Linked DNA regions of Homo sapiens. The protein of the gene in region 1 interacts with the protein of each later gene in a biochemical or structural test. Each region holds a gene or a part of one and is shown on either strand. Other genes may lie near its edges.

Region 1 (4,046 bases):
CCTGATGGATATTAACCCCACATCCTCCACTTCCCCCTCTTAACAGCTGCATAATATTCCACAGCAAGCAGATGCCTCCCTACCCTTGGCCACTCCCGCCTGATGGGGCATCGGGTTGTATCCAGTTATGTTTGTTTTTCCCTCCACAGATCTCTTGGTCCATTAGTGGAGAGAACTGAGACATCCTTTCTAAGGGCTGCATTCCTAGAAGGGGAGATTGCTGGGTCACGGAGTTCGAACATTGTTAACGTTAATAGATTCTGCCAAATTATCTTGCAAAAAGCATGCAGCAATTTAAGTTGCAGGCAGCGTGTGGACGCCTGTCTTCCCGCATTCCAGCTCAAAGCCAGCAATGGCTGGGGTCGATCTGGGAGTGTTGGGGGTAGGGGCAGGTGGAGTCACTGCTTAATTTGCATGATTCTGGTTATTCGTGAGATCAGTTTTTTTTTTTAATCGCACTTATGCTTATTGTTTATTAGCGTTTCCTCCCATCTTTGCCTGAAGTCTCCGGGGACTGCCTTTGGGGGTCGGGTAAACTTGTCCCCTGCGAAGAGGGCCCAGGGTTGGGGTCTGGAAACTCCGAGGCTGCACTTGCCAGCGGCCTCTTAAGGCCACAGCGTCCCCGTGGTTTCTGGCTCGCAGCCCCCCGAGACCCAGGACTTGTCCAAGGTCAGGGCACCGCGGGTGCCCCCGGGCTGGGCCGCAGCCAGACTGCGCTTCCCGCGCGCCTTCGCTTTGCACCAGGATCGCCCAGGAAACGCCTGCGGGCACCTTGAGGAAGGTCGGCGGCTCCGGGCCAGCTCGCACTGGCCGGGGGTGGGGCGGGGGCCGTACCTGCTGCGGAAGCCCCGAAAGCTTTCGCCCGGCCCCTCGCCGCCGCCGCGGGGGCTGGCTGGACTAGGCGGGCAGGCTCGAGGATGCGGATGAACCCAAGCGTCCTCGAGTGCCCGGAGGCTCTCCGCCTCAGTTTCCCGCCCAGAGGCAAGGGCGTGCGAGGGGATCCAGATATCCAAGGACCTGAGGTTTCGGCCTCGAGGTCTTGGGCGGGGGACTGGGCAGGCTGCGCGGGGTCCCAGCGAGGGGACAGCTCGGGTGGGCGGCCAGGGTGTTGGGGGCTGCGGGCGGCGGACAAAGCGGCGGCACCACCCCGCGGCGCGGGCCAATGGAATGAATGGGCTATAAATAGCCGCCAATGGGCGGCCCGCGTTGTGCCCCTTAAGAGCCGCGGGAGCGCGGAGCGGCCGCTGTTCGCCTGCGTCGCTCCGGGAGCTGCCGACGGACGGAGCGCCCCCGCCCCCGCCCGGCCGCCCGGTGAGTGGGCCCGGGGGCCGGGGGCGTCCGCGCCCGGGCTAGGGGCGCTGCGTGCAAAGGGGGCGCGTCGCCTGGAGCGCGCGCCGGACCGGCCGGGGGTCCCCGGCGATGATGGCGCTCCCCGCGCGCGCTGCGGACCCCGCTGACCTTGGCCGCGTCCCGGGGGGCGCCGGGGGGCCCGGCGGCGGGGGCCTGAGTGGTACGCGGGAGCCCGGGAACCCCGGCGTGCCGGTCCCCTCTGACCCCGCGTCTCCCCGCAGCCCGCCGCCGCCATGCCCTTCTCCAACAGCCACAACGCACTGAAGCTGCGCTTCCCGGCCGAGGACGAGTTCCCCGACCTGAGCGCCCACAACAACCACATGGCCAAGGTGCTGACCCCCGAGCTGTACGCGGAGCTGCGCGCCAAGAGCACGCCGAGCGGCTTCACGCTGGACGACGTCATCCAGACAGGCGTGGACAACCCGGGTACGCGACCCCTCGGGGCCGGGGTCCCGGCCCCCCCTCCCCCCGCGCAGCCGCAGGGTCCTCAGCAGCGCGCTCGGGCCCGGCAGTGACGTCACTGTCCCCGTCCCGCGCCCCCTCCCCCAGGCCACCCGTACATCATGACCGTGGGCTGCGTGGCGGGCGACGAGGAGTCCTACGAAGTGTTCAAGGATCTCTTCGACCCCATCATCGAGGACCGGCACGGCGGCTACAAGCCCAGCGATGAGCACAAGACCGACCTCAACCCCGACAACCTGCAGGTGCGGGGCTGCGGGCGGGCCGGGCGGGCGGGGCCGGGGTCTTCGGGCGCTCACTCCCGTCTCGCCTCCCAGGGCGGCGACGACCTGGACCCCAACTACGTGCTGAGCTCGCGGGTGCGCACGGGCCGCAGCATCCGTGGCTTCTGCCTCCCCCCGCACTGCAGCCGCGGGGAGCGCCGCGCCATCGAGAAGCTCGCGGTGGAAGGTAGGGGCCGGGCGGGCCGAGGGGCGGCGGCGGCCGCGTCCCCCTCCCGGCGCGGTCCCCGCCCGCTTTTGTTTACGTCGCCCGGGAGCGGCAGCCGCCGTCGCGCTCTTATCTGCGCGCGCCCGGGTTCAGTTTCCCGGAGGGACCGAGGGACGGAGGCCCAGCCCCGCGCCCACAGCGGCCTGGGGCCCAGGGAGGGCGGGTCCTGGCGCGGGGTCACCGCCTGGGACCGTCGCCCGGGCCGTGAGGACTGGACGCCCGCAGATCCGGGCGGGTGGGGCCCTCTGACGTCCCCCGAGGTGGGGCACGGGGGCGGGCGGGTCCGCGCTGCGGGCTGGAGGGGCGGGCGCGGGAGCCGAGCGTCCTGAGCGCACCCCTCGCAGCCCTGTCCAGCCTGGACGGCGACCTGGCGGGCCGATACTACGCGCTCAAGAGCATGACGGAGGCGGAGCAGCAGCAGCTCATCGACGACCACTTCCTCTTCGACAAGCCCGTGTCGCCCCTGCTGCTGGCCTCGGGCATGGCCCGCGACTGGCCCGACGCCCGCGGTATCTGGTGCGTGTCCCTCTGCGCCCTCTCGCGGCGTCCTCCCTCCCCGCTACCTCCGCTTTCCCTCTCGCCCCCCTCGCGGGGGTGGGGCCCCTCGCGGCGAGGAGGAGGAGGAGGAGGAGGGAGGGGCCGGCCGCGCTCCGGGTCTGGGTTCCGTGCCGCGCCTCCTCCTGCGCCGGTGACCTTGGCCGAGCAGGTGCGTTAAGGGACTGGGCCCCGGCCCGTGGGGGCTCAGGACTCAGCAACACCTCCCCACCCCGAGACGTGAGGTGGGGGCGGGGCTCTCTGGCGCCTCTCCCCGACGGCCCTGGGAGCTGGAGCTCTTTGTTTTCTTTTCTCACTCCTCCGCCGCTGGGATTCTACCAGGGGCTGGTGACGCCAAAGCTTCTCCAGGGGCAGGGCTCCTACCCCCACTGTGGGGGGCGGGTCGGGCTGTCCTGGCGGTCCCTGGCCCCGCCCCACCTCAGGCCACAGCGCATGATGGCAGCTGGGGTTCTCCTGCTGTGAGGCGTCCCGGTTCCCCCGCCCGCCCCGTGTTGGCGGGTGGAGTCTTGGCAGCAGCCTCCACTCCTGGGCATGGCAGGGAGCAGCACCTCAGGGACTTGGGAAGTTCCTTTGGTCTGGGGGCGGCCTGGGGCTTTTTTCTGGGTATGCCCTGAGACCAGCCCTCCCGCAGGCACAATGACAATAAGACCTTCCTGGTGTGGGTCAACGAGGAGGACCACCTGCGGGTCATCTCCATGCAGAAGGGGGGCAACATGAAGGAGGTGTTCACCCGCTTCTGCACCGGCCTCACCCAGGTGCCAGGGACGGGGCAGGCCCAGACCCCAGGGCCCCAGCAGGGATGTGGGTGCCCCAGCATCAGTCCCCCCGGGGGATTTCCGGCACTGGGGAGTCTCAGGGCCTGTAGGGGTTTCAGGCAGGCCTTCTCCCTCATACCCTCTTCTCCGTCTGCAGATTGAAACTCTCTTCAAGTCTAAGGACTATGAGTTCATGTGGAACCCTCACCTGGGCTACATCCTCACCTGCCCATCCAACCTGGGCACCGGGCTGCGGGCAGGTGTGCATATCAAGCTGCCCAACCTGGGCAAGCATGAGAAGTTCTCGGAGGTGCTTAAGCGGCTGCGACTTCAGAAGCGAGGCACAGGTGAGCAGGGCAGGTGCTGCGGCTTCCCGTGGCCTTTGGGCAGCCCTGTTTCCTCCGCCCTGACTTGCTGTCTCCCCAGGCGGTGTGGACA
Region 2 (3,500 bases), on another chromosome or scaffold:
CAAAAAAAAAAACAACTTAGCTTTCAGCTTCCAGCCAGTTGCTAATAAAGACCTGAGTATCTAAATTCAAGGTATTAGCCTTTGCCAACCATCTGGGGAAAAAAAAAAAAATCCCTAAACTAGTAGATAAAGCAAATTTTATAGAAATCATACAAGGCACACCTTAGTTATTTCTGTTTAAGTTCCAATAAAATTTATTTGGTTGACATCATGCCAAGGTGCCCTTTTGACCTCCAATTTAATCAGAAACAAAATCCAAGTAACAATTCATGAAAAAAGATTAGTGAAAACACTAAAGAGAAATATTTCCAATTTCCCATAATGGCCAGTGTTAGAGAAGGAAACATGCTTGTTGGGAAACTGTCAAAATGATCATAAAAAATGTAAATAGGATAATAACTGGCCTAAGGTACAAGACATCCAAAGGTATGTTTTAGCTTATGTGTTAAATAAAATGCTTGCTGATGGGGTAATCAACTTTGTTCATTCTTTACAATTTCCATACTAACACCCCCTAAATCAATGAAATACAAGCATAAGAAAGAATTATTATTAAAATCAGTACATGAAACAAATGAGCTCATTAGCCCAAAGGCAATGACTATTCAGGGCAAACCAGAGGGATCTGTATACTCTCAAGACATTTATCAGTCACTCACAGTCGTACAGAAGATGGTGATTCTGATGCTTATTGTATCAACCTCATAAAATTCTGAAAACTCACTTCCTGAAACGTGCAAAGTTGTGCAATTCTGCTACTACACATTTCTGGTATGGTACATCTTTCTTGAATCTGTCCCACCCCTACTTTCTAATTCTTACTAATTTGGGAATCTGAGGACCTTAGACATGCATATATTAGAAAACAAAGTAAATGTAACAAAATGTCCAAATGATGTTGACATACACTTAAATTTGGTTTCAAGCTACAAGGCCATTCAATTAGTCTGGAGGAGACATTAATTAACAACAGCTCATCCTTAGATTTAACTGGGGGGGATTACACTGGAGTTTACAACACTGCTCACCTTTAGGACAGAAGCTAAGCTGGTCATGTGCTCATTGAGGGCACCCTCAGATTCCTTGTAGGTCAAGCAAGTGAACTGGTACTCCTCGGGATCAAAGGCATCAGCCCCCTGCTGCTCCACATCGCTGGCTACTCCCACGTAATAGTCCTCTATGTCCCCAGGGTCGTCTTCTTCTTCTTCTTCCTCTTCCTCACAATTTGGGTCATAGTCCTCTTCATTGCTGTCAGACCCCTGGCTATTCATGTCCACTGACATCTTAGCATCCAGCCAAGTTGCAGATCAGGAAAGCAGTTGCTTTTTCCCCCTCCCCCCAAAACTACCGCTTTCTCAAATGCATTAGTATTTTTGTCTTCTAAGGGAGGAAAAAAAAAATAAGTGTTACTTTTTCCCCATGACAAGTTGTAACAGAAACCATTCAAGAATCAAAATGGGACAGTCCTGGCCCTAATCTCACTACAGCCTATTCCAACTCTGGTATCACATGGGGAATCTTACTATCATCCCCCTGGCCCAGGCTTATAAAAGGGAAATCCTTCCCTGGAGAGACAGAAGCAGCTAATAAATGGTAACTTCACATGAAAGGCCTGGCATGACAGGGCAAGGCTGTCTGCTCTATGTCAGAAAGTCAAATTCCAATGAACTTGTTATTCTTGCCAAAGTCCTTAAGGGAGAAGCACATCCCCACAGCTGGCAGCCCAGAGGGGAGGCAACATAAAGGTTTAACTACCAAAGTTTAAAATTTTGCTTATCATGCCCCGTTAGTATTGATACAGACAGTACATAAATAGGAACACTTCCTGCTGTAATATGTAGAAAAAGAAAACCACTGTTTCACAGACATTACTTTTAGGTGTCTGAAAAATAGGTGCATAGTTGGTAAAGAAAAAAAAAACACACATAGGTGTTCAACATCCTCCTCTAGTCTGCAAAGTTGACTGATTTTTCAGGTTTAAAGAGTTCTACTGGCCGGGTGTGGTGACTCATGCCTGTAATCCCAGCACTGTGGGAGGCTAAGGTGGGTGGATCACTTGAGGTCAGGAGTTCAAGACCAGACTGGCCAACATGGCGAAACCCCATCTCTACTAAAAATACAAAATTAGCCAGGTGTGGTGATATGCACCTGTAATCCCAGCTACTCGGGACGCTGAGGCAGGAGAATCACTTTAACCCGGGAGGCAGAGTTTACAGTGAGCCAAGATTGCGCCACTGCACTCTAGCCTGGATGACAAGAGTGAAACTCCATTGGCCGGGTGCGGTGGCTCACGCCTGTAATCCCAGAATTTTGAGAGGCTGAGATGGGTGGGTCACCTGAGGTCAGGAGTTCGAGACCAGCCTGGCTAATATGGTGAAACCCTGTCTCTACTAAAAATACAAAAAAATTAAGCAGGCGTGGTGACAGGCACCTGTAATCCCAGCTACTTGGGAGGCTAAGACAGGAGAAACGCTTGAACCCAGGAGGCGGAGGTTATAGTGAGCTGAGATTGCGCCACTGCACTCCAGCCTGGGCAATAAAAGCGAAACTCCGTCACACACACACGTACACACATACACACACACACACACACACACACGAGGGAAACTCCATCTCAAAAAAGAAAAGCCCGCAAACAGCGAAATGTTACTTAATTACATATAAACGAAAAGAGAATACTAGTTGAGAAAGTGAAACAGTCACAAACCCTAACTTCAACTCACAGAAGATTGTGGCAAACACCCATTAACTTTTCTACACAACTACCATTTCAACTGATGAGCTGAAAGGAACAATATCAACTAGCGATTTAAATCTAAAACTAGGCCAGGTGCGGTGGCTCACGCCTGTAATCCCAGCACTTTGGGAAGCCAAGGCGGGTGGATCACGAGGTCAGGAGATCAAGAGCATCCTGGCCAACGTGGTGAAACCCCATCTCTACTAAAAATACAAAAATTAGCTATACGTGGTGGTGCGTGCGTGTAATCCCCAGCTACTCAGGTGGCTGAGGCAGGAGAATCACTTGAACGAGGGAGTCGGAGGTTGCAGTGAGCCGAGATCCCGCCACTGTACTGCAGCCTGGCAACAGAGTGAGACTCCATCTCAAAAAAAAAAAAAAAATCTAAAACTAATAGAACCTTAAAGTGTAAGAGCATTTGGATTTAACAGTACATAAACAATTTATATAAACAAATCTTGATTAAATACAAAAGCAAATATAAAGTCTACTTGAAGTAGGTAATCTGTCTGAAAAAAAACAACCAACCATAATCTAAAACAAAGACTGAGGGTGTGGCTCACAACTATAATCCCAGAACTTTGGAAGGCTGAGATGAGAGGATCCCTTGAGGCCAGGAGGTCAAGATCCACCTGAACAACCTAGTGAGACCATGTCTCTACAACACATTTAAAAAAAAAAAAAAAGAAATCAGCTGGGCGCGGTGGCTCATGCCTGTAATCCCAGCACTTTGGGAGGCCGAGGCAGGTGGATCACGAGGTCG

Evidence for each region. The genes of interacting proteins can lie anywhere in the genome.
Region 2: of the proteins of CKB (region 1) and ARIH2, one has a biochemical effect on the other in vitro, tested with the Homo sapiens proteins (2 studies listed by BioGRID).

Annotation. Positions count from the first base shown.
Region 1 is NC_000014.9:103,520,031-103,524,076, reverse strand, and holds the start of CKB (creatine kinase B-type), read left to right. Parts: upstream 1-1,246; 5' UTR 1,247-1,311; intron 1,312-1,571; 5' UTR 1,572-1,583; coding exon 1,584-1,776; intron 1,777-1,899; coding exon 1,900-2,054; coding exon of another isoform or gene 2,055-2,126; coding exon 2,127-2,259; intron 2,260-2,642; coding exon 2,643-2,814; intron 2,815-3,484; coding exon 3,485-3,608; intron 3,609-3,765; coding exon 3,766-3,955; intron 3,956-4,034; coding exon 4,035-4,046. UniProt on the Homo sapiens protein: Reversibly catalyzes the transfer of phosphate between ATP and various phosphogens (e.g. creatine phosphate).
Region 2 is NC_000003.12:48,925,342-48,928,841, reverse strand, and holds part of ARIH2 (E3 ubiquitin-protein ligase ARIH2), read right to left. Parts: exon of another isoform or gene 1,381-3,500; 5' UTR 1,284-1,380; coding exon 1,029-1,283; coding exon of another isoform or gene 987-1,028; exon of another isoform or gene 171-986; intron 1-170.